Linked DNA regions of Homo sapiens. The protein of the gene in region 5 purifies or fractionates together with the protein of the main gene of each other region. This does not show direct contact. Each region holds a gene or a part of one and is shown on either strand. Other genes may lie near its edges.

Region 1 (3,500 bases), on a different chromosome or scaffold from region 5:
TAAAGTAAGTCTCAGATCGTTTCAGAGAGATATTTCTGTATCTTGTTAAACCAACTAACCCATCGGTTCAAAAGTACTGCCTATCATGTATTTTCCTTAAATTTATTATGGATACCACTGTCTAACAAATCATTAAAACACTACCTCCTTTTAGTGAGAAACTTCCCTATATAATTCCTACTACACTATCAAATTCACACACACTTTTCTTTTTTTTTTTTTGAGATACAGTCTCACTCTGTCACCCAGTCTGCAATGCAGTGGTACAATCTCGGCTCCGCCTCCTGGGTTCAAGCAAGTCTCATGTCTCAGCCTCCTGAGTAGCTGGTATTACAAGTGTGCGCCATCACATCCGGCTAATTTTTATATTTTTAGTAGAGATGGGGTTTTGCCATGTTGGCCAGGCTAGTCTCTAACTGCTGGCCTCAAGTGATCTGCCCGCCTCAGTCTCTGGAAATGCTCGGATTACAGGTGTGAGTCACCACATGCAGCCAAGTTCACACTCTTATATCTACCCTTTAGGGTTCTTATCTTGTACCACCTACCCAAATTTCTCTGTACCTCAAAACAAACAGCCACACTTCCGTCAGACTATTCCAGTCTTCTTTTCAAGCCCATGCTACTCCTGCTTCCTAACCTGTGGCCAGGTAACTCACCCCACCAAGTATGGCCTTTCTCCTCCAACAATTCAAACACTGCTATACCATTATTCAAAGCCTGGCTCTATTCCCGTTTCTTCTTTGAAGGGTTCCTTCCTTACATGGTCTCCATTAATTTCTCCACTCTTAAACCCCTATGAAGCTTAAAAATTCAAATCCCAACACAGAACATTACTAATTGTCATTTTGTCATTTATTGATTTAGAATCATTTTCATAAGTTTCACTCTTTTCTCCATACTTAAATTGAAAGCAAGGGGATGCTGTGTCATACATTTCTCTTGCTTTCCAGCTGTAGTCAACAGAACAATGCCGAGCATACCAAAACACTAGCTAGTTGGGGCCATGGCTGAAACCCCTGCAGAGGGTCTTGAAAGTCATGCTCTTGATCCATACATCCAAAACCAAAAAGGCAGGACCACCACCCCACAACCCAGAAATAAAGAACAGGCATTACATGGTACTATCAATCAAAGATTCTAACAGAAACCAAATATGAGCCTAATACAATTCTGGCACTACAAAGAACTAAAAGAATTTTATAATATTCGGCCTCTACTTTCTAACCCCATTTTCTTTGATTTTTCAGTGAGATTCTTTACGTGTTTTCTGTATATTAATAAATAAGTTATATTTATTGAATACTGAGTTTTTAAAAAAGCACCACAAAATATTTTGTCTCAGGCTAGCAAAATGGATTTCAAAGGTAGTATGAAAAGGTAGAAAAATAAAGCTCATTAAGACACTAATATAACTAAAGCAAACTTTGAAAAAGTATTTTGAAAACTACTTGCACAAACACTACAAAATAAATAATTTTACTTTTTAAAATTAGTCAATGTTAACATTCAATCTTGAAGCCCTTTAAACTATGAAATTAGCCAATTAATCATGTTATCAAAATTGTTTTGAAGACTATTTAAACGATGGTAGTTTAGAATCTTACAAAATATTTTAGATTCTCTTAAGCAAAATATTTTTCCAGGATAGAATATATCTCATTTCGAACAGTAAAGTTATATATATTATGTCTATGTCCAAAAGGGAAAGGTAACAAATGTTACAATTCCTGTTACACTAGTCTCAGCAGAATCATATAATTAGATTTAAAATTCGTAATGCAAGAATGTTCTTTAAATATCATCACAGCCCAGCTCTTTCATCTCATTTTTATAAATAAAGAAACTGAGGAAATGAAATTTAAGTCTTATCAAGGTACTAAACCAGGATTCTAACCCAGATATTTTTCCCACTCTATTATAGTGCCTTTAACATTTATAGACTGTGAAATTACTTTAAATATTTAATAAAATCTGCCATTAGCATTTCAAATCAAATTAAGTGTATTGCCAAATACACACGTTAAATATTCTTACAGGCATTTAATAGACACCTTGGAAATGAAATTAAACAAGTGAAAGAATCATTTGCTTCTTTCGTTTATTATAACTTGAATAAGCAAAGATATGTAAATAACTATATTTTCTCATTTTCAAATTTCGGCTTCAAGGAAGTAACATCAGAAAAGTTTGCTAAGTTTTAAAAATATATATATACATAAACTATTGACAATCAAACTTTTAAATTATTTATCACTCAACTAGAACTTTCGTTTAATTTGTAGGTTATGTTTATTTGCACGGTGTTACATGAAATTGCAATCCACTTTTAAGAGAACAAGGCAATCAATCACTCTTTCAAATCTCTCTCACACATGTGGGCACACACACACCTCAACTATCTAATTTCCTGGGAACACCAGGGACTCAGTATTTTAGATTAATTACACACATGTGCAGTCTATAATACTGTCCTCAATTTAATGACTTGCTTATTCCAAAAGTTCACTTCCAAGTTGCTTGGACTGGAGAACTCCAAAGCATAAAATACTTAAATGGAACTCTATTACTCTTAAGCATCAACCTCTACCTCTACCACTGTCTCCACTAAGACCAGCAGAAGGCTATTAGATCTTGGTGCAGGTAAGAAATTGATCGGCCTCTGTTACAGTTATCTATTGCTGCCTAACAACCACTCAAATAGTTAGTGGCCTAAAATAACAATAATCATACTGTTCACAAATCTGATTGGAGGAGGGCTCAGCAGGGAAACCTGGTCTCTGCTCCACATGAAATAAGCTGGGGCTGCTCAACTTGGCTAGAAGATAGTCTTCCAAGATGGCAAGTTGGTGTTTACTGTTAGCTGGGAGTTCAGCCAGAGCCAAGGGCAAAGGGCCTTGGTTCTTTCAAAGGGCTGCATGGGCTTTCTCTTGGCATGGCTGCTAGAGTCCAAGAGGTTACCTAACCTTGCAAATCACTACATAGCATCACTTCTATAGTCATAGGCCTGTACAGATTCAAGAAGTGAACACAGAACCTACTTCCTATGGGAGGGGCATAAACATCACAATGTAGGATGGCAGATCTTGTGACCATCCTGAAAAATACAACCTTCCACAGCCCCTTTTTGTAATCCTCTCCTACTATAATCTCCTACTTCTTGGATCATTTACTCTGAGTCAACTGAGACTGAGAAGGCTGAAGTGTTCCCTCCCTGATAGATCTCTAATCTAGTTCTCATCTCAATCCACTTAAATTGAAAGTGGCCAACACCTAATTTTTTAAAATGGATACTACTCTCTTAATAGTATGCTTCTAAGCAATTTAAATTTCTCAACTCAATTTAGTCATCAAAAAAACCTTCTGAAGTAGATACCATTATTTCCCCCATTTTACAGATGAGAAAACTGAGGTACAAAGAGGTTGGGTAACTTGCCAAGATCACACAACTAGTAAGAGGCAGAGCTGAGAGATGTCTTCCACCTCCTGGCTAAATTACCACC
Region 2 (3,500 bases), on a different chromosome or scaffold from region 5:
GGGGAATCTGCAGCCTCACTGAACATGGAAGTCTTATCCTCTGCCTCTGTGTGTGAGGCCTTCCCACCATTTTGACTGTGTCTTGGCATTCCCTGTCTTATTTGTGTTGTAAATAATTTTCTCTTTGGGCATTATCTCAGATGTCCATTTTATGCTTACTATTTAATGCCCTTATTTGACATTATCTTGGGCGTTTAATAAACTGAATGTATATTATGGATGCATTGGTAGGTAGGGTTTTTGTGTGTGTGTATTTACTTGTTTGTTTTCGAGACAGGGTCTCACTCTATCACCCAGACTGGGGTGCAGTGGTGTGATCATGACTCACTGCAGCTTCGACCTCTGGGGCTCAAGTGATATTCCCAACTCAACCCCCTGAGTAGCGGGGACCACAGGCTTGTGCCACCACAACTGCTTAATTAATTTATTTTTTTATAGAGGGGTCTCACCAGGTTGCCCAGGCTTGTCTCGAACTCTTGGACTCAAGTGATCCTCCCAAAGTGCTGCGGTTACAGGTGTGAGCCACCATGCCCAGCCTATAATAAATTAGGCTGAGTGCCTGCCATCTTGCAGTTTGCACTTTAGTTAAGAGATAAGTGAAAAAAATATTTTGTTTTGTGGTAGAAAGCGTGTTCCAGATAAAGGAACAGCTCATATGAAGGCCTGAGGTAGGAGAAAGAGAGGATTTTAAAGGGTTAGAATGGAAGTCAGGTTGGTGAAAAGTATGTACTGAGTGAGAAAGGAAAAGGACTAAGGACGTAAAGGCCAGGTGATATCACCCATGATAAGAACATTATTCTGACCAGTACCAATAACTTTGTACTTATTACAGATAATCCACACTCATAAACTAGTCTTACAATGCCTCCAAACCAGAGGTGAAGCTGTCATTATAAAAGGTTAGAAACAGAAAAGTGGGTGCTCTGGAAAATTCAGAATATTTCCCAAGACTTCATTTCATCATGGTCTCCAAGATTATTTGAAGACTTCTATTCAAAAAAAGGACCCATTCTTAAAAATTCCCTAATTCTGCACTAAGTCTGCCTTTTCTTCTATTTTCGTATAATTTTTTTTTCCTTTCTTTGACTCCCATTCAGACTTGGAGAAAGTATAGCAGCAAACAATGCCTATAGACAACAGGAAACAGAACATATACCCAGAAAAATGCCCTGGCAATCATCAAATCACAGTTTTCCAACATCAATAAAGTGTTTAACTCCTCATTTGAAAGATGGTGTTCCTGGATTGAATATTGAAGAATTAATAGAGAAACTTCAGTCTGGAATGGTGGTGAGTGAAAAAATAGCAATTATAACCTGGTACATATTAGCTATATGTCAGTCCCAATTATAACGTGTATCTAAACACTGTCAGGTACAGATTTCACTATTGAAACCTTAATATAAGAAATAACAATATTCTGGAAAATTTGGAAATAAGAAAAATCAGTCAAAATTTCAACATTTTGCCGGGTGCGGTGGCTTACGCCTGTAATCCCAGCATTTTGGGAGGCCAAGGAGGGTAGATTGCCAGAGCTGAGGAGTTCAAGACCAGCTTGGGCAATATGGCGAAACCCCGTCTCTATTAAAAATACAAAAAATTAGCTGGACGTGTTGGCTCATGCCTGTTGTCTCAGCTACTCTGAAGGCTGAGGCAGGAGAATCACTTGAACCCAGGAGGCAGAGGTTGCAGTGAGCCAAGATCATACCACTTCACTCCAACCTGGGTGACAGTGAGACCCATCTCAAAAAAAAAAAAGAAATATTTGTGACTTACCTGATGTAGCATTTGTTTTTATTTTGTTACTCATCATTAAGTTTTAATGATTTAGTTTTGAAGTAGGCATTTATTTTGTCATTGTGTCAAAATATTTTATTAAAATTTTAAGTTTTTTTACTCTTAAAATGTAGGTAAAGGATCAGATTTGTGATGTGAGAATATCTGACATAATGGATGTATATGAAATGAAACTATCCACATTAGCTGTGAGTATAAGCTTATTTTAACAATGTGTAATAAGCTTTAATAGATGTATTCCTAAAATGAAAATTAATGATATGTTTTCTTGTAGTCCAAAGAAAGCAGGCTACAAGATCTTTTGGAAACAAAAGCTCTAGCCCTTGCACAGGCTGATAGACTGATTGCTCAGCATCGCTGTCAAAGAACTCAAGCTGAAACAGAGGTGTGTAGAATATAAAGACACATCTGATTTGTAGAAAAATTAATAAGTAAAACATGCAAAATATTAGTTATGTATTTGTTACTCTAATTGAAGTAAATTCTCCTTAGCATTTGACATGCCTCCTTCCTTCTTCCTGAAATTCTGTCCTCTTTAATTTTGGTTACATCGTTACCTGATTTTTTTTTGCTACCTTGTATTATTTTCCTATGTTATTTATTTTGTACCTTTAAGTGTTGGGGACTCTGGGACTTATATTCTAAACCTTTTTCCTTTAGTTATGTGTTCTGTGGTTTCAATGGTTACCAAAATAGTAATGTTCCTAATTTTATATGTCAAGCACAGATCATTTTCCTGAGCACTATGTGCCTATGTTGCTCCATTTAAATATACAGCAAATACCACAAACTCAGCATAACCAATAATGAACTAATCACCCTTCCCTTTTTAAAATTATTCTTATGTATTCCCTCTTCTGTTTTTAGTGTTCTACAAATAAGAACCCTGGAAATCACAGTTTTTACCTCCTATAATTATTCACCAAGTCCAGTTGATTCTACCTTCTAAATATTACTCTTTTCTGCCCTATCTCTGCTTCTACCACTATTTGTTATAGGCTGGATCCTTTTCATTTTTTGTATGAATCATAGCAGAGCAATTAGTCTTCCTACCTGTAGTCTTCTACCCTCTTCTCAGATACTCTACAGCCAGTCATCTTTCCTTGGTTCTACCCCCTTCACCTAGCCGCTCCCCCAAGGATCTCTAAGGCAGTAAAATGATCCTGTCCCTCTTGTGCTGAGTATCTTTCACAGTAGCTGCTATTGCTTTCAAATATCATTAAAATTCTTTAGTTTGGCATATAAGGATTCTAACTATATAGGCCTCAATCCACATCTTTCATTTCTGCGCATTCTTTGCAGTCAGCCATGTTAGGCCACTTTGCTTTTTCTGAAACTTGACATATTCTCGTATTTCCTTGTCGTGGCACTTGACTTTCCATGTCTGGAACACCATTTCCTCTCTTCTGCCTAACTCATAATCCTTCAGATTTCAGTTAAAATATCCTCATTACCCAGAAGCCTACTCTGGTCTCCTTCCCACACGTGTTTGACGATCCTTCCTCTGTGTATCAAACCTACGCTTATCTCTTAATAACATTTTTCAAACCACGTGGAAATTCTTTTTTCCCTCACTCATGGTATCAAAGACTGCTTCTATAGCTCCAGGCCCTAGCATAGCACTTGGCACATAATAGGTGCTCAGTAAATTTGGCATTGTATTATGTACATATATAATGTATACCTTAAGAGTGAACTTACTG
Region 3 (3,500 bases), on a different chromosome or scaffold from region 5:
TTAATCTTGGGGTTAGCTTAAACAGATGATCTTGTACTATCCCTTAAGTGAATGTAAATAAGGACACATCACTTCATCTATCTTCTCTCTAGCTGACAAGTTTCTTTGAGGTAGAGAGAAGGAGGAAAAAAAATGTCACTTAGGACTATCTCTAGAAACAGCACATATCCGTCTGTTCCTTATCCTCAACCCCAAAAAAGTGTTTTACTTTGGTCACAAAAATCTAGTTAGGTGTTGTAGGCCCCTGTAAATTTAATTATTGGGAAATGTTTATAATTGAGACAAACATGTCTAATAATTGCTTACTTGGTTAATGATAACATTATGAATTCTTAGATGGTGACTTTTAAATTCTTTTGTTAAAATTTTAAATGTATTATGATTTTTTCTGAAATTCTGTTTTTATCTAACATTTAATTTTAAGGCCCAGAAGCCTTACCTGGTACAACGGAGAGGAGCTGAATTTGCTTTGACAACTATAGTAAAGCATTTTGGTGGTGAAATGGCAGTGAAGTTGCCACATCTCTGGGATGCTATGGTTGGCCCATTGAGGAATACAATCGACATAAATAATTTTGGTATACACATATTTTTATGAGTCCAGTTTTTAACAAATTTTAATGTCTATTAATTGAATATATCCTTATAAAATAAAAATGCCTCTATGCCTCTACCTGTTTATTCCAGACCAGCTGGTAAGTTTTAAAATGGAAACTTGGTTTAAAAAAAACACACACCTTTATTTTATAAAAGAGATATTTGGGTTGGGCATGGTGGCTCATGCCTGTAATCCCAGCACTTTGGGAGGCCCAGGTGGGCAGATCACTTGAGGTCAGGAGTTTGAGACCAACCTGGCCAACATGGCAAAACCCCATCTCTAGCAAAAATACAAAAATTAGCTGGGCGTGTAGTCCCAGCTACTCTGGAGGCTGAGGCAGGAGGATTGCTTGAACCCTGGGGGTGGAGGTTGCAGTGAGCCGAGATTATGCCACTGCACTGCAGCCTGGATGACAGAGCGAGACTCTGTCTCAAAAAAAAAAAAAATTGTTTTTAAAGAGATACTTGAAATGGATCACTATGTTTAAGTTCTTTGGTTGCTCTACATGTAGTACCCCAGCACTTAAATTAAGGTCATGGCATTTAATTTTAACACTAAGAAGCAAAATTGACTCTCCTATGCTAGCTGAAAAAGTGCTAAAAGTTTTTGTGTGCTCTAGATTTTGAAAAATTATTTGCCAGATAATACAGACAATATATTTTAACAGATGGAAAATCCCTCCTGGATAAGGGAGATAGCCCTGCTCAAGAATTGGTGAATTCTCTGCAGGTTTTTGAAACAGCAGCAGCTTCAATGGATTCTGAGCTTCATCCCTTGGTAACTAACTAATGCAAGTGTAATATTTCTTCAAATAAAACAAGTGGTCTTATTAAAAAGTCTTAAGGTTTGAAAGGTACAGCTTTGATGTCATCCTTATTAATTGCATTTTTCTTTGCTGTGGTATAACTAGATTCCTCCTTTACTAACAGTGCAACTCCTGTGGGCTTTGATGTAGACCAGGCTGCTTGAATTTAATAGAAAACCCAACCTGGAAGCTTAGAATGTGGGGGCATTGAGGAAAGGACTCTGATGACACAGGAGCCAGATGTAAATAGGAAAGAAAACTGCAGCCCTGTTCATCCAGATGATCCTAATAATACAGCTCCAAGAAAGGAAAAGCATATATAATGAAATCTGTTTCCTAGATAAGTACAAAGGTGAAAGGAGTCACCTGCCTAAGGTGAAGCTGGTCAGTGGCAAAGATAGAACACTGGTTTGGGATTTTTTTAAAAAACTATTAAAATGTTTCTTACAAAAGAATTAGGACAGAGGGAGGAGGAAAATAGAGAATTATCTGGTTTTTTTCATAGAAGAATATTATTCTTTTCATATCTCTGCAATAGGAAGCTGTCTGCAATTTACCCCATTTTGAAGGGTATTAGCCCAGTTCTCTATTGTTATTTAACACAAAAGGGAGAATCTATGAGAGGGTGGAGAAGAATGGATTTTTTTTTTTGTACATAGTAATAAAGTATGTCCTTTTACTTGTTAAAAGTTTTGCTGATTTACTGTTAGTAAAGAAAAGTAGGCCGGGCGTGGTGGCTTACACCTGTAATCCCAGCACTTTGGGAGGCCGAGGTGGGTGAATCACGAGGTCAGGAGTTCAAGACCAGCCTGGCCAATATGGTGAAACCCCCATCTCTACTAAAAATACAAAAATTAGCCGGGCGTGATGGGACATGCCTGTAGTCCCAGGTACTTGGGAGGCTGAGGCAGGAGAATCACTGGAACCCGGGAGGCAGAGGTTGCAGTGAGCCAAGATCGCGCCACTGCACTCTAGCCTAGGCGACAGAGCGAGACTCAGTCTCAAAAAAAAAAAGAAGGAAAAAAAAAAGTAGAGTCCATCTGTACGCTCTTAATCTTCATAATTAGCAACATGCATTCAGCTGAACTGTAAGGCACATCAAACTGTTGAACAGATACCTGGCTCTCATCAGCATTAATTCTGGTGTTCCTTGTAGCAGACATTTAGTAAGGTGCTGTTGTGATGCTGTTGTGATTATAACACCTATGGTAAGCCAGGAAGCTACAGTGGACGATACCTACCAAAGTATGGTGCTAGAATAAAATCAGGAACACTCAAGCCACTGAATAAAAATTATGTACCTAAATCTAAATTAGTGCTACCAAATTTGGAGGGAGCTGGTGATGTGTGGTGCTGTTTTCCAGCTTCAGTAGGAGAATCTTGCCAAGTACTTTTTGGTTTGTTTCCTGTTAATTTTGGAAAGAATTGAGTGTTCCTATATGCCTAAGAGATGATATGAGCAGAGCAGAGGTTCTATACCTTTTTTTCCCTTCTTTTTGAAAGAGTTGTAATACATTAATTTGTATTTGGATTAGTTTTCTATTGAGAATGTTTTGGCAGTAATGTTTTGAAGTATTTGGAGATATTTTTAGAGTCACTTAGAATATTGAAAACTTTCCTGAGTATGGGCTATTATAGTTACATATTAAACAGTATTTCCTAATAATTCTAATTGCCATTAACTTTTTGTTTTTAGTTGGTCCAGCATTTGCCACATCTTTATATGTGCCTTCAATACCCCAGTACTGCAGTGAGGCACATGGCTGCTCGTTGTGTAGGTGTCATGAGCAAAATAGCTACCATGGAAACAATGAATATTTTTTTGGAGAAGGTTCTTCCGTGGCTGGGAGCAATTGATGACAGTGTCAAACAAGAGGGTGCAATTGAAGCACTTGCCTGTATCCTTTTTCATTTGACAAACTGTTCAGGAATTATATTCATTTCACTTAAGGATAATTAAAATGAAATTGATGTGTTCTAATATGCACATAAATAACCTGCCTTGTTCCAAAAAATACCTATTCTTTTTACATCTTATTTTGAAATATTTTTGTATTTTATTACAAATGTGTTACAAACTGATTTGCATTTTATGAT
Region 4 (3,500 bases), on a different chromosome or scaffold from region 5:
AAGTGCTGGGAGCATAGGTGTGAGCCACTGCGCCCAGCTTTATGTGGTTTTTTTTTTTTTTTTTTTTAAGGTGTACCAGTTTCTGATTTTTTGTTTTCATCTTCAAATAAAACTTAAAAATAGTACTTTATGTTTTACCAATTTAATGAATGCTTTTTTCAATTTGTTATTTGTTGAAATGTTGTTTTGGTTGTGATGTTGTATGGTTTTGAAATACTCATTTTTATGTTGTCAGTTTTTACCTTCATATTATGTTTGATATACAGGTTATATTTTAATTTTTGTTAATTTTATATTTAATCCTAACTCAAGACTCATAATTCACTAGCTTGTTAGAAAGGATAAATTATTTTTCCAGAATTTCGAAATGGCTAAAATAGTCATATTATCCTTTAATGTTAATGTTCTGTAATAGCTATCAAGATTGATTTAGAGCATTGTTATGAGAATGAAACAGAATTAGGCCTTGGTATTTTAAGTGAAAAGCTTTTTAATTTGGGCCATATTTTTGGACAGGAAACCATTTTTGGTGCCTATATGATGTATGATGTCAAGTTTTAAGAGTTTGCCATATGTCTGTTAAGATAATACAAGGCGTTTAACTAGGAAGAGTTGCCGTTTTTAGATAGTTTTTCCCCATTATCTGTAGGAACTATAAATAAAAGACAGTTAAAAAAACTTTTAGAACTTTTGCTTTTGTAAAAAACCAGAAGTCTTTCATCTGATGATGAGACATTTAAGTTGGCATTAGAAAATTTTGTAATACTTTATGTAACCAATTACAGATTTTTTTGGACACTGAGATTCTGCTTCTGTAGGTACTGTTTACCGACAGTAAAATATAAATTCTTAGATCTAGATATCAAAAATTATTTAAGTTGAGATTACTATTTTTGCACAGCAAATTCAACTTTGCAAAAATGAATTTGAAAGGAAAAACTTTAAGAAATTTCTTGTCAATTTGTAGATGTCAGATTCTCATTACAAAATTATTATAATATTCTAATTTTTAAAAATTAGGTTTATTTCACTCCTTATTGTCCCTCAGGGGGCGATAATGAGGGTAAAATGAGATAAATATAGATATACTTTCAAAAATGTTATACACACTCAAATTATAAATGAGTTGAGCACCGGGCACAGTGGCTCACACCTGTAATCCCAGCACTTTGGGAGGCCGAGGCGGGTGGATCACCTGAGGTCAGGAGTTCGAGACTAGCCTGACCAACATGGAGAAACCCCATCTCTACTAAAAATACAAAATTAGCCGGGTGTGGTGGTGCATGCCTGTAATCCCAGCTACTTGGGAGCAGAGGCAGGACAATCGCTTGAACCTGGGAGGCCGAGGTTGCAGTGAGCTAAGATCGCGCCATTGCACTCCAGCCTGGTCAACAAGAGCGAAACTCCATCTCAAAAAAAAAAAAAAAAAAAGCTGAACGTGGAGAAAGCCCAGCTATGAAAACCTAAATTTGCAAAACAAAATTAAGATTGTTTTTACATGAAGATTCATTTTATGAGAATATTCACTTCAGAGTTTCTGTGATGTGATTTTTTCATGGGTCTTAAATTATATATCTATTCCAGAAGATACAGTTTATGTACAACTTTTCAGGAGAACATATGTGAAGACAGCATACTTAAGATATAGCTGTTGTTCCACATACATACATTATAGGTCCTCGATAAATTATTAAAAGGTTGATTTTTTTAGAGCCCCTATTATGATAGGCATAATATCTTATATTACAGCAATAGACTTTTGCTTATTAGTGCAATTTGATAAACCATTGATAGTAGCTAAAATTTTTTCTTCCCTCTCTCTTCCAGTCTATATTATTTATTTTGTCAATCAGAGGATCCCAAAAGTTTTTGATTCACAAGTCTGACTTTTCATGAAAGTTGCACTTTGGCCAGAGGAATACCTCCAGTTCTATGTTCTATTTATTAAGCAGGCAGGGCCAAACAACTTAATGGATATTTGTCTTCACAGCCTACTATGTATTTCAAAGACAATAGTATGCATAAAGTAAAAGAAAAATAATGTTTTTATTTTATTCTTTACCGCAATTACTTACCACTGGGATGCGTGTGCCTATTAGAAACTGCACACAGCTTCTTAGATCTTGGAATTGAATACTGTCCCCCTCATTCCTGTACTTCATTGATTTTCATTCAGTACTTGGTTTTTTATCATAGCAACTACCAAAACCCAGCTTTGCGGAGATAATTATGTCATTGAAGGGAATGTAGTGTGATTTATTTGAAACCATGAGCAATCTTTTGAGGTATCCAACAGATGTATCTCCCTCTGAATTTTGCCTCAGAATTTTTTCAGGGCACCCTCATGAGTTTGCTACAGCATTCTGGGGTACTTTGATGCAGTTTTTGGGAATTGTGGCCATGTTGCCATAAGTATTTATTGAACACCTACTATGTGCCCTGCAATATGGACGTGATCTTTATCAAGAAAGACCTGGTCATTACTGTCTTCAAGCTTACAGTCTATAGGAGATACTGATATTAAACAAGTAAATAGAAATATGCTGAGTTTTGTGAAAGAAAATCACATTACAGGGGTACCTAATCCAGTTAGGGGGAGATACTATAAATGTGATTTTCTGGGTTCATAATGCATATGTTTCATAAATGTTAATATGTTGGTTGTTTCAGTCATTCCTTCTTAAAGTCACTTTTATAGAATACATTTAAATCTGAAAATTCTTATCTGTTAAATTGAAATTTATCTCATTAGGTTGATTAACTCACTGCTTGATTATTTGGTGTAAAGAGTAGTGAGAAATAGTTCATATGTAGTTTTCAAACAGTAGAGATTTTCACTTTTGTGAGTAATTAGAAAAATAAAACCGTATGAGACTTAGATTGTTTTTATTGTGTTGATTAGAGTATCAGTTACATTTAAATCTACGAACAGTTAGGCCTCTCAGTACTAGAACGTCTCTGAAAAATATAACTGATGAACAGAAGTATAAATTACGCTTTTGGAGGGGGATTAAAAAAGCGTAAGTTATATTCTGTAAAAATGTTAAAGAAATTATCACCTAGAGGAACTCTAAATCTTTGCATATTTCTTTTGTAGCAGCTGTGTTGAGAACAAAACACATCAATGTGAATTGCAGTACTGATAACTAGAAGGGCAAGTTTAAGTCACTTACCCAAGATATTTTAGTCCTGAGGATTCAGAGATGGAACTCAAAAGGAGTTGAACTCCATAAGAGCCTGGGTCCTAATACCTGCTCTATAGCTCTGGGATGTTTAAAAAGTGATCACACATATGAATTCTAAACAATATTTTAAACAGAAGTTTTCTCCTAATCACAGGTGTTCTTTAAAGAAATTTTCTTATACATTTTGGAAACTTCTACCAGCTCATTTGATCACAAATGGATGGTTATTCAGACACTGACGAGGATTTGTGCAGGTATTTTAAATTATCCTTTTTATTATCTCTTTCTTATTATTAGATATTTAAAAGGCCAAAT
Region 5 (3,500 bases):
GGTTCCCTAGGTTCAATTTGATGGTATTTCTTGTGTGTGCCTTTGATCTGCCACTTGGTCACTCCGTAAATCCAAGCCTCTACAAATGTCAAGGTAAGGTTTTCTTTCAATATGGTAAGGCTTATCTATCAAAAGGTTTACATTTCTCAGTTTGCTCATTTAAAATGAGTCTTTCAAGATTGAAGATATTTCCATAGTTGTACAAAAGGATAACGTAGCCAAGACCCTGTTGTCTCCAGGCCAGGGAGCCATGTTCTTCAATTCACAAAGAAAACCATATAAGGGTATCTCTGTGTAGCTAATATGCTATAGTTGATTATTTTTAGAGAAACATGCCAAATGCTAATAAATGATTAAGTTCTTTAAAGGGTGTTGACAGATAAAGCCTGAGCTGAAATAAGATTCAAGATGTAATTTATGATGTGAAACATTCTCTTTCAGGACTTTGCACAGTTAAAAAGAAGTTGGTTATGTTTGGGAGATAGCTGAATGTGGTGTGTGGGTATACCTTAGCCAACAACTTCTCTAATTTTAGACTTTTTATTATTTCCAAGGCTTTTATTTTAGAGAGTTATTTATCCTTCCCTGTAGGGCCTCTGGTGAAAATGTAAAGGAACAAGAAAATGGCCAAAATGTGGTGGTGGATGGGAGAGAGGGAGAGAGAGAGGAGAAGGCGTGAAGGGAGAAGATAGAAGAGGATCATTCTTGAATCAGAAATTTATTAGCAAAATTGATTGAAGCATTTCTCAAGCAAGTCTCCCCTTTTGAGGCTCAAAACTGCACTCATGCCTGCTGACCTGTGTCTTTTCCCCACTTCTGTCTTCTTCAGTTTCATTGTAGTTTCCAGAAAGGAGGAAAACTATCCTCAGAATGTTTACACTGTACGCTGTCTTCTTCCCACTCACTCAGTGTGTTCAGCCTATTTTAATGAGCTTTCAGATTCCATAGTAATCAGACATTTTCTGATCACAGCTTATTAGTCTCCCATAAGATATTCCACAGATAGAATTAGGCTTAGGTATGGCATGAAGTTACTTAATAAGGTTTGTTGAATTCATGTAGTTTGCAAGTCTCGTTCTGAGCCAGGAGGCCCTCAGGTTCTCATTCTTCTGTGTCTTCAGATATCACCAGTGATCTTAGAAGATCCAGCTCAGATAAGTGAACTAATAATAGGCCAGGTTTGTGAATGGGGTTTGTTATTTCCCTTAGTTGGATCTTTTCAAAATATGTAATATGTCGGTGATAGTTTTAAAGCTCAAACTATGGATATATTTTTAAATTTAGATAATAAAAGAGTACAATCAATTTCTTTCCTGGCCTGTTACAGACTCAGAAATAAATTTCTGGTAGGAAAATATATTTGAGGTAAACTTCAATTTCTCTTAAGAAATATTTTTAAAAAATTGTTTTCTATCTCTATGTTTCTCTTAGAGATTTTGTTTCAAGAACTTTAATTCATTTTCATAAGCCATTGTTCTATTTCAGCAAGTTAGAGGAATCTTTCCAGAGCTGTGAAAAGGCCTCTGTTTTGTGGATGTGTGTGAAATAGATTCCCATGGACAGAACCGCTGCCTTGCACAACTCTAGGGGGCACTGTACTTATTGTAATCTATTGAGATGGCACCCCTGGGGGATAAGCTAACATTATTTCTGACCCACATATTTCTAACTCACATAGGCTAATCTTTAAGTGATTAAGGGCATTCTGATGGATGCAGGGTAGAACTTGTAATTTATATTTGTCCTTCAGGGCACGGTGCACTGTATGTCAAGAAGAAAATATTTCCATGCACTTGATCAGCATATTGACTCCAAATTCAAAGCTTACTTTGAACTATTTCTTTGTGTATTAATACAGAAAGAGTTCTGGCATGGAAGTCCTTTAGTGAAGGTGCCCTATCTCATTAAAACTCTAGTTCAAACACAGAAAAACTCTTAACTACTACAGGAAACAGAGACAAAAACAGAATACACCCTTTCCTAAAGTTGTGAAATGCAGCCATTCCATTATTTTCCTTTTTTGACTCTTACTGTGAAAACATTTATATAATGCCAGTCGTTTAAAGAAACGTTCACAACTTATCACAGGATGGAATAGACTGCAGTCTGGCAAAGTAATCTTGGTTGTCCTCTTAATTACACCACTCACTCATCCTCTAAAACAATCATCTCTTACAATGCTCCTATGTTTACTGCATCTACTTCCACGAAACTTAACAATCCTCTCCACAGCTGAAGCTCTTCATAGACTCCCATTACATAGTGAGAAACAGTAGGTTCTGTTTTGTATCAGTCATTGCCTTGACAAGTTTGAGTAGGAGAGAGAGGGTGGGAGAGGAATTTTTGTCGTTACCTTTTCCGCCCTGCATGGAAGAGCAGAACTCCAACAAGAGTCCAGCCCACTCTCAAGCCTCAATTCTAGAGTTTCTGACTCTATGTGCCAAGAAGACCTGATCATCAGTACTAGAAAATATAAATAGTAAATATACAGTCATGTCAATTATCTAAAGAATATATGTAGAGTATGAGAACTGAAAAGCTCATGACAAATGTTTTGTCATAGATGATTTCTGCCGTGTGATCAAATTCATTCATCCACTCATCCGTTCATCGTTACTTAACAAACATTGAATGAGTGACCACTGTGTGCCAATCACTGTACTAGGCATTATAAATGTTGTAGAATATTCTGAAACAAATAAACAGTTAAAGCTCAATGTACATTTGTAATTTAATAAAGTAGAAAAAGAAAATGCTATCTATGTTTAATGAGGTGAGTGAACATTTGCTTGTACAAGATGGTTAACTTTGACATTTCCTGACTTTATGGGGCTTGACTCCTTTTGGCATTAACAGGGGTGTGTGTTAACAGGATTTTTTTTCTTCATTTATTATCTCAAGTATGTGATTTTTAATTAAAAAGAGAAATGAAACATGTAAATCCCCTGGTTAGAGAGATTTTGTAGGATTCACTTCACAAAACCCTCAAATAAGTAAAGAATATTTGTTTCTTATTCATGCTATTTATCCTTTTAGAAAAATTTTAAACTATAATATCAAAATGACTTTATAATGTAATAGAATAATTTATTTGGATTCTCTTGCCTTGTTTCTTTCTCAAGCAGCTGTTCCAAGGTAAAGTTATAAAATCACGGTCTTTCTTGAGTAGAAATCTTTTAGCCAGTATGGCCACACCTTTTTTCAATCTAGTGTTTATTTATTTGTGTTTATCATCCAAAAGAAATGTTCTAGAGAAGCAGTATAAGCCTTAGGGTAAAATGGGTCAGCACAAACATAGGCTATCATTTTGTCAAATGGATACCATATTGCCAGCAGGACTTAACACTAACAACAGCTATTCAGTTAGATGAGACATCATGATATGAAAACCAGTGCCAGTTATGTGAGTATTGCCAACTGGCTCATATTTGATCAATGTTAGGTAACATATATTCAACTGAATTTTAAACAGGATTTAAAATTTTAATTTATGTGGAAGC
Region 6 (3,500 bases), on a different chromosome or scaffold from region 5:
AGAGACACGTACCTCATGCCAGGAATTCCCAAGGTAGTTGCCATCGGTGTGAGCCACTGTGATAAGCGTCTTAATGGTGTCGATGTTTTTCTGCTTCATTTCTGTGATGCTGGAGCTGGCTGTGAGTAGGGAGAAGCGAGCAAGAGCCTGAACATAGGCATCTCGTTCCAGCTGTAACAGAAACCCAAGAGAGAACACTGTGACTCCAACCTTAGTGTGGCCATTCTCACATCTGCAGGGCTGGCACACTGGGCTTCTCTGATACTTTTTGTATGCACATTGACTGGCTTTCTGCACATTAGCACAACAGTTATTCCATGCTAATGCCCTCTTGCTTTTGGAACATCTTGCAGAGGTATCTATGCACTGCCACATGTTTGAGAAGCAGCTCTCTCCTTTCTAATTGACTTCAGTCAAACTCACCTGTCCCATGTTCCACTATGTCTGTTGAATACTAAGACTGTCACACAAATTGACATCTGCAACAATTCTGCCAGGCAGGTCTGTTTTCTCAAGTTTACAAATGAGGAAATGAATTGGTGTCTCAGAGAGACTTTAGCTGAGCCAATGTCACATGGTTGGAGAGGTGGCAGAGTGGGGTCTTGAAACCTAGATGGTCTAACGTCAAAGCTTGTGGTCTTGGTATAAAAGAAAATGTCTAACTGTAAAATGAATAGGAACAGAAGATTGAGTTTTTAAAAATAAATGGGGTGCAACTTCTGACTTACAAAGTGATGCATGGGATTGTCAACCTCCTAATTTCGTAACAGTTTCAGAATTACATTTCATTTATTTGCTTGAACTTTTCAAGTTTCAAAGGTTTACAGACATATTCATATTGCATTGAACTACTTGTTTCTCCAGGGAAGAGTTGGAAATATGCGAAATTATAATAAAAACTGATGTTAAAAAGGAAATAGTATTTTTAAGCACCAAAGCAGGCAAGTTAGGCAGATGAACACGAAGTCTGCTTTGTCAAATCCAGTCAAGAAGCTTGGACCCTACCTATTATTATTATTATTATTTTCTTTGAGATGGAGTTTCGTTCTTGTCACCCAGGCTGGAGTAAAATGGCGCGATCTCGGCTCACCGCAACCTCCACCTCCTGGGTTCAAGCCGGTCTCCTGCCTCAGCCTCCCGAGTAGCTGGGATTATAGGCATGTACCACCACACCCGGCTAATTTTATATTTTTAGTAGAGATGGGGTTTCTCCATGTTGGTTAGGCTGGTCTCGAACTCCCAACTTCAGGTGATCTGCCTGCCTTGGCCTCCCAAAGTGCTGGGATTACAGGCGTGAGCCACTGTGCCCAGCCTACCCATTCTTAAAGACAGTTTTAATCCGTATCTCCATTTTTGCCCCTAACGAGCTGTCATCACAAAGCTACGGATTTCTTGTCAGTAGGCATAAGTAAGTAGCTTGCTAAGAGTCTTGATTAACTGAAAATTTCTGATAATTTCTAAGTTTTGCCAAATCTAAAAGAGCACAACCCACCAGTATCTCTGGAGTGTTGCTGACTTACACCTACCTGCATTCCAAAGATGCAGGCGATTCGGATTGCACATCGGATGCCTTCCAAACACAAGGAGGCCACTTCAGTGTCATCACAGTTCTGGAGTCCGATGCTGTAGGCTGCCAATAGTGGCGTCCACACCAGCTATCATGGAAGGAAGATTTCAATAACATCCAGAGTTTTAGCGTGGAAAGAGTACTTCTCGCTGGCCAGCTTCAGAATCAGGCTTAGCCACATGCTTGCTAAGTTCTCAGGATACTCACTTTGAACATTGGCCGGACATGGTCCAGGTGAGTGGCACTGGTAAACGGGGCTTTGGCATGGCTCACAGCCTCCATCAGAGCTTTGGCTGTTTTAGCCATTTGCTCCATCTCTAAGTTGTACAGCAGCCGCCGCTGCTTTTCACTAGCTACATCTGTAAAGTAAGAGCATGATAGGTGTGGCTAGCAGTCACTGAGGGCTGGCTACATGCCATACACTGTTTCAAAAGATGCACAATGATTAACTCCTAAATCCTCCCAACCATCTCGTGAGTCCATTACAAATATTATTATTACCATTTTACAGATGGGAAAAATGAGGCAGAGGGGGTAAGTCACTTGCCCAGGGTCATACAATTACTAAGTAGAGGAGCTGGGACTTGATCTAAGGCAGTGTGGCTCTAGAGCCACACTCTAAACCACTACCCTTTGCTGCTTCTCAAACAGTGAAACTGACAGCTCCCCAGGGGCCATAACTAATAGAATTCTAATCAAGGCGGACACAATCTGAATTAAAGAAAAGTTTTAAAGAACACTTTTTGGGAGTAATTTAGTTCTCAGATTACTAATTTTAAATTCCTTCTTGCTCCTCATCAGAAATCTAGCAAGACAGTGACATTATAAAAGTCCCAACATAATCACAATAATTAATTCAATCACATTTCCTATTCAGATATCCAGCTATGCACATTAAATTTATCACCAGAGTATTTAATCATGCATTCTGATACACTAAAAAATTAGAACTAAAAGAAATAATTTGCCATTAGACCTTACTCTGCTTAGTAGATTTGGTTGCAATCGTTAGCTCTTTTGTTTCTTTCATTGCAATTTTCTTGCCTTCTATCTCTTCATAGATGCTTGAGAGATACTCTTCTGGCAGATCTTTACTATCATTGATACCCCGATTCATTTTAATATACTGCTCTTTCGTCATTTTATTTTTTACCTGTAATTAAAAAAAATTAAAAACCATTTAAAAAACATCCAATTGCCCAAGTAAAGCCACTTATTTAGCTAATACAACATGTAAATCATTAAAGTGCTTTACCTGAGGACTGTGCAAGTCTGTAGTCAGCATAATAATTGAATACGCTAGGACATAAGCAGTGTCAGCACTAGCAAACAGAGTTTGCCTGGAGAAAAAAATTCGAGACATCAATATTCATGGTGATGCGGTTTGGAAGGTACAATGCTAACAGAGACACACTTCACGAGAAAAGCAGCCGACTACTCCCCTTGATTCCAAATGAGGCAAGAGTTTTTACGCTTTCATCATCACTGAACAAGACTTAGCAACCCAGAGTGTAGAAAAAGCTCATTAACAATCTGTATCAAATTTTAGCTTCTTTGGCAGGGCGTGGTGGCTCAGGCCTGTAATCCCAGCACTTTGGGAGGCCGAGATGGGTGGATCACCTGAGGTCAGGAGTTCGAGACCAGCCTGGCCAACATGGTGAAACCCAATCTCTACTAAAAATACAAAAATTAGCTGGGCGTGGCAGCGGGTGCCCATAATCCCAGCTATTCGGGAGACTGAGGCAGGAGAATTGCCTGAACCCGGGAGGTGGAGGTTGCAGTGAGCTGAGATTGTGACACTGCACTCCAGCCTGGGTGACAGAGCGAGACTGTCTCAAAAATAAATAAATAAATAATAAAAATTGAGGCTTCTTTGAATAAAGCAATTTCAAATAATTTTTTTTAAAAAGACTCTAAGAAGCATCTGGGGCCA
Region 7 (3,500 bases), on a different chromosome or scaffold from region 5:
TGGGTGTGGTGGTGGGCACCTGTAGTCCTAGCTACTTGGGAGGCCGAGGCAGGAGAATGGCATGAACTCGGGAGGCAGAGGTTGCAGTGAGGTGAGATCGCACCACTGCACTCCAGCCTTGGTGACAGAGTGAGACTCTGTTTCTGTAAAAAATAAATAAGTAAATAAATAAAACTTGCCAGGTGTGGTGGTGGGCACCTGTAGTCCCAGCTACTTGAGAGGCTGAGGCAGGAGAATGGCTTGAACCCGGGAGGCGGAGCTTGCAATGAGCCGAGATTGTGCTACTGCACTTCAGCCTGGGCGACAGAGTGAGACCCTATCTCAAAAAAAAAAGAAAAAAAAAAAAAAAGGCAAAAAACTACAGTGACAGAAGCAGATCAGGATTTTCCAGGGCCAGTGAGGAGTCAGGGAAAGGGTAATTATATTGGGGTTGATGGGATTTGGGGGTTGATGGAAGTATTCTGAATCTTGATTGTGTTGATGGTTACATGCTCTATATATTTGTCAAAACTCATTGGACCGTATACTTACATGAGTGAGTTTTGTTGCATGTAAATCATACTACAATAGGCCGAGCATGAGAGCTCATGCCTGTAGTCCCAGCACTTTGGGAGGCTGAGGCAGGCAGATCACAAGGTCAGGAGTTCAAGACCAGCCTGACCAATGTGGTAAAACCCCATCTCTACTAAAAATGCAAAAATTAGCCAGGTGTGGTGGTGTGCACCTGTAGTCCCAGCTACTTGGGAGGCTGAGGCAGGAAAATCGCTTGAACCTGGGAGGTGGAGGTTGCAGTGAGCCAAGATCGCACCACCGCACTGTAGCCTGGGCGACAGAAAGGGTCTCTGTCTCAAAAAAAAAAAAAAAAAAAAAAATCATACTACAATAAAACTGCTTATTTAGGCCGGGTGCGGTGGCTCATGCATGTAATTCCAGCACTTTGAGAGGCCAAGGCGGGAAGATCACCTGAGGTCAGGAGTTCAAGACCAGCCTGGCCAAAATGGCGAAACCCTGTCTCTACTAAAAATATAAAAATTAGCTGGTTGTGGTGGCAGGCACCTGTAATCCCAGCTACTTAGGAGGCCGAGGCAGGAGAATAGCTTGAACCCAGGAGGCTGAGATTGCAGTGAGCCGAGATTGCGCTGCTGCACTCCGGCCTGGGCAACAGGGTGAGACTCTGTCTCAAAAAAAAAAAAAAAAGACAAAATAGAAAAACCACATAAATATTCACTTTATTGCCAACAGGAAAACCATCACTTCCTGCCTTATTGTTTAAAAACACAAATTCACCCATATTCAATCACATGATAAACTGGAGGGGCTGCAGTTTGCATGTGACTGAGTGACTTGCCAGTGTGATTATGTTGCAGATGTCAGCAGACACATGTCAAGGGTTAGTCACCAGACATTGCCAAGAAATACGAAAAGAGAATCTGCATGCGATCCAGGCACTAACACAGCAGTACGCTTTTATTTTGCTGGAAGAGCCTGTGGCACAGCCCATGCATTGACATTTGATCTTGTTTCAGCTAAACTAAATGTGTCTGTTAAGATTTTTTTTTTTTAATTTGAGGTAGATTTAGGTATGAGGGGAAAAAGTTTTCAGCCCTTTTCCTGGCATAGACCTTACAAAAGAACTACTTTCTTTAGCTGTGTTTGTTGAGGCCGTTGGTGAGTGTTTGAAATCTTTTTAGTTGGCTTACTGCTAACTGGAAATTTAGGACGGTTGGGGGAATGCCTGACTCAACGTTTTAACTAAGCTCTCTCTGAAAAGGGATCTCCCCAGCAAAATCTGTAGTGCAATCAATTACCAAGGGAGCGGCTGAAAGTGCTTAATATGCTTAAGCTGGCTTCAGAATGCATGTTCTGTATTACAAGGAACCTGGGTGGAAACAAAACAAATTCATCTATATGTTTTGTTTGTTTGTTTTTTGAGCTGGAGTCTTGCTTTGTTGCCCAGGCTGGAGTGCAGTGGCACGATCTCGGCTCACTACAAGCTCTGCCTCCCAGGTTCACGCCATTCTCCCGCCTCGGCCCCGCGAGTACCTGGGACTATAGGCGCCCACCACTACACCCGGCTAATTTTGTTTTTGTATTTTTAGTAGAGACGGGATTTCACCGTGTTAGCCAGGATGGTCTCCATCTCCTGACCTTGTGATCCACCCGCCTGGGCCTCCCAGAGTGCTGGGATTACAGATGTGAGCCACTGTGCCCAGCCCACCTATATGATTTTTATAAAGGGCATATCTAAATCAAAATAATCCAGGAAGTGACAATAAAATAAAAAGGTGGAAAAGTTTATCTTGGACAAATGCTGACAAAATGAAAGTACCATAGCCATATTAGTGTGGGATAAAATAGACTTCATATTGATGAAAGATGTAATCTCCTAAAAGAAATAACAGTTATACCTGCTGGGCACGGTGGCTCATGCTTATAATCCCAGCACTTTGGAAGGCCGAGGCAGGTGGATCACGAGGTCAGGAGTTCGAGACCAGCCTGGCCAACGTAGTGAAACCCCGTCTCTACTAAAAATACAAAAAAATTAGCCGGGCGTGGTGGCCACCGCCTGTAATCCCACCTACTTGGGAGGCTGAGGCAAGGAGAATTGCTTGAACCTGGGAGGTGGAGGTTGCAGAGTTGAGATCATGCCACTGCACTCTAGCCTGGGCGACAGTGTGAGACTCCGTCTCAAAAAAAAAAAAAAACAGTTATGAATGCTTGTGAACATAACTTTAAAATATATAAAGGAAAGCTAAAGGAAAAGTCTGATGTAACACAAGTATATATTGACAAACCACAATCTTGGTGGGAGATTTGAATATATTTCTCATGAGTCAGCAGATCAAGTAGATAGAAAATAAGTATATAAAAGAATTCAATGACACAATTAGATACATGTAATAGAGATTACATACTCTTCAAAGCTTGTAATAAGTCAACTCACAAACACTGATTTTAAGTCCTTCCACAAAGAAAATCTCAATAAAATAGGGATATAATAAGTCACTTCCCTCCTAGGGCGATAATGTGTATAAAAGTGTTTAAGGTATAAAGCCTTAGAAAACATTTGTTCCTTTTAATGCCCTGATGTGTTTTATCCTAGGAACGGCAGCAGTAGGACACACAGACAAGATTGGGAGATTGAAAGAACTCTGTGAGCAGTATGGCATATGGCTTCATGTGGAGGGGTAAGCCGGCGGTGAGGCTGGTGGCTCCATTCGGGCCTGCACAGAGTCCTTATGAGGACTGGACATCCAGGCTCTCACTTTGGTGACATTTATCACGAAGGGCTCTTTGGGTCACAGATCACAAAATAACCCAAATTGGCTTAAGCCCAAAGAGATCTTACTGGCTCACATAACTACAAAGAGCAGTGTTATGACTGCCTCAGGCACGACATCAACCAGGATCCAGTGTGTTACTCCCACCTCTGCTCCCCCAGTCACAGGCACTGGGCTTGGTTTCCTCTATCTGTGGACAGATCTTCCTGTTACAGTGCA

What was found.
Region 1: the proteins of EDNRB (region 5) and EXOC5 purify together in Homo sapiens (affinity purification with mass spectrometry; 2 studies listed by BioGRID and IntAct, with this or other methods). This does not show direct contact.
Region 2: the proteins of EDNRB (region 5) and CIP2A purify together in Homo sapiens (affinity purification with mass spectrometry; 2 studies listed by BioGRID and IntAct, with this or other methods). This does not show direct contact.
Region 3: the proteins of EDNRB (region 5) and BTAF1 purify together in Homo sapiens (affinity purification with mass spectrometry; 2 studies listed by BioGRID and IntAct, with this or other methods). This does not show direct contact.
Region 4: the proteins of EDNRB (region 5) and ARFGEF1 purify together in Homo sapiens (affinity purification with mass spectrometry; 2 studies listed by BioGRID and IntAct, with this or other methods). This does not show direct contact.
Region 6: the proteins of EDNRB (region 5) and ARFGEF2 purify together in Homo sapiens (affinity purification with mass spectrometry; 2 studies listed by BioGRID and IntAct, with this or other methods). This does not show direct contact.
Region 7: the proteins of EDNRB (region 5) and PDXDC1 purify together in Homo sapiens (affinity purification with mass spectrometry; 2 studies listed by BioGRID and IntAct, with this or other methods). This does not show direct contact.

Annotation. Positions count from the first base shown.
Region 1 is NC_000014.9:57,258,906-57,262,405, forward strand, and holds part of EXOC5 (exocyst complex component 5), read right to left. Parts: intron 1-3,500. UniProt on the Homo sapiens protein: Component of the exocyst complex involved in the docking of exocytic vesicles with fusion sites on the plasma membrane.
Region 2 is NC_000003.12:108,558,439-108,561,938, reverse strand, and holds part of CIP2A (protein CIP2A), read left to right. Parts: intron 1-1,097; coding exon 1,098-1,290; intron 1,291-1,910; coding exon 1,911-1,985; intron 1,986-2,071; coding exon 2,072-2,182; intron 2,183-3,500.
Region 3 is NC_000010.11:91,993,270-91,996,769, forward strand, and holds part of BTAF1 (TATA-binding protein-associated factor 172), read left to right. Parts: intron 1-424; coding exon 425-578; intron 579-1,265; coding exon 1,266-1,375; exon of another isoform or gene 1,376-1,388; intron 1,389-3,099; coding exon 3,100-3,301; intron 3,302-3,500. UniProt on the Homo sapiens protein: Regulates transcription in association with TATA binding protein (TBP). Removes TBP from the TATA box in an ATP-dependent manner.
Region 4 is NC_000008.11:67,267,282-67,270,781, reverse strand, and holds part of ARFGEF1 (brefeldin A-inhibited guanine nucleotide-exchange protein 1), read left to right. Parts: intron 1-3,339; coding exon 3,340-3,439; intron 3,440-3,500. UniProt on the Homo sapiens protein: Promotes guanine-nucleotide exchange on ARF1 and ARF3. Promotes the activation of ARF1/ARF3 through replacement of GDP with GTP. Involved in vesicular trafficking.
Region 5 is NC_000013.11:77,908,832-77,912,331, reverse strand, and holds part of EDNRB (endothelin receptor type B isoform 1 precursor), read left to right. Parts: intron 1-3,500. UniProt on the Homo sapiens protein: Non-specific receptor for endothelin 1, 2, and 3. Mediates its action by association with G proteins that activate a phosphatidylinositol-calcium second messenger system.
Region 6 is NC_000020.11:48,987,711-48,991,210, reverse strand, and holds part of ARFGEF2 (brefeldin A-inhibited guanine nucleotide-exchange protein 2), read right to left. Parts: intron 2,908-3,500; coding exon 2,823-2,907; intron 2,721-2,822; coding exon 2,549-2,720; intron 1,927-2,548; coding exon 1,775-1,926; intron 1,656-1,774; coding exon 1,527-1,655; intron 172-1,526; coding exon 13-171; intron 1-12. UniProt on the Homo sapiens protein: Promotes guanine-nucleotide exchange on ARF1 and ARF3 and to a lower extent on ARF5 and ARF6. Promotes the activation of ARF1/ARF5/ARF6 through replacement of GDP with GTP. Involved in the regulation of Golgi vesicular transport.
Region 7 is NC_000016.10:15,013,026-15,016,525, forward strand, and holds part of PDXDC1 (pyridoxal-dependent decarboxylase domain-containing protein 1), read left to right. Parts: intron 1-3,103; coding exon 3,104-3,188; intron 3,189-3,500.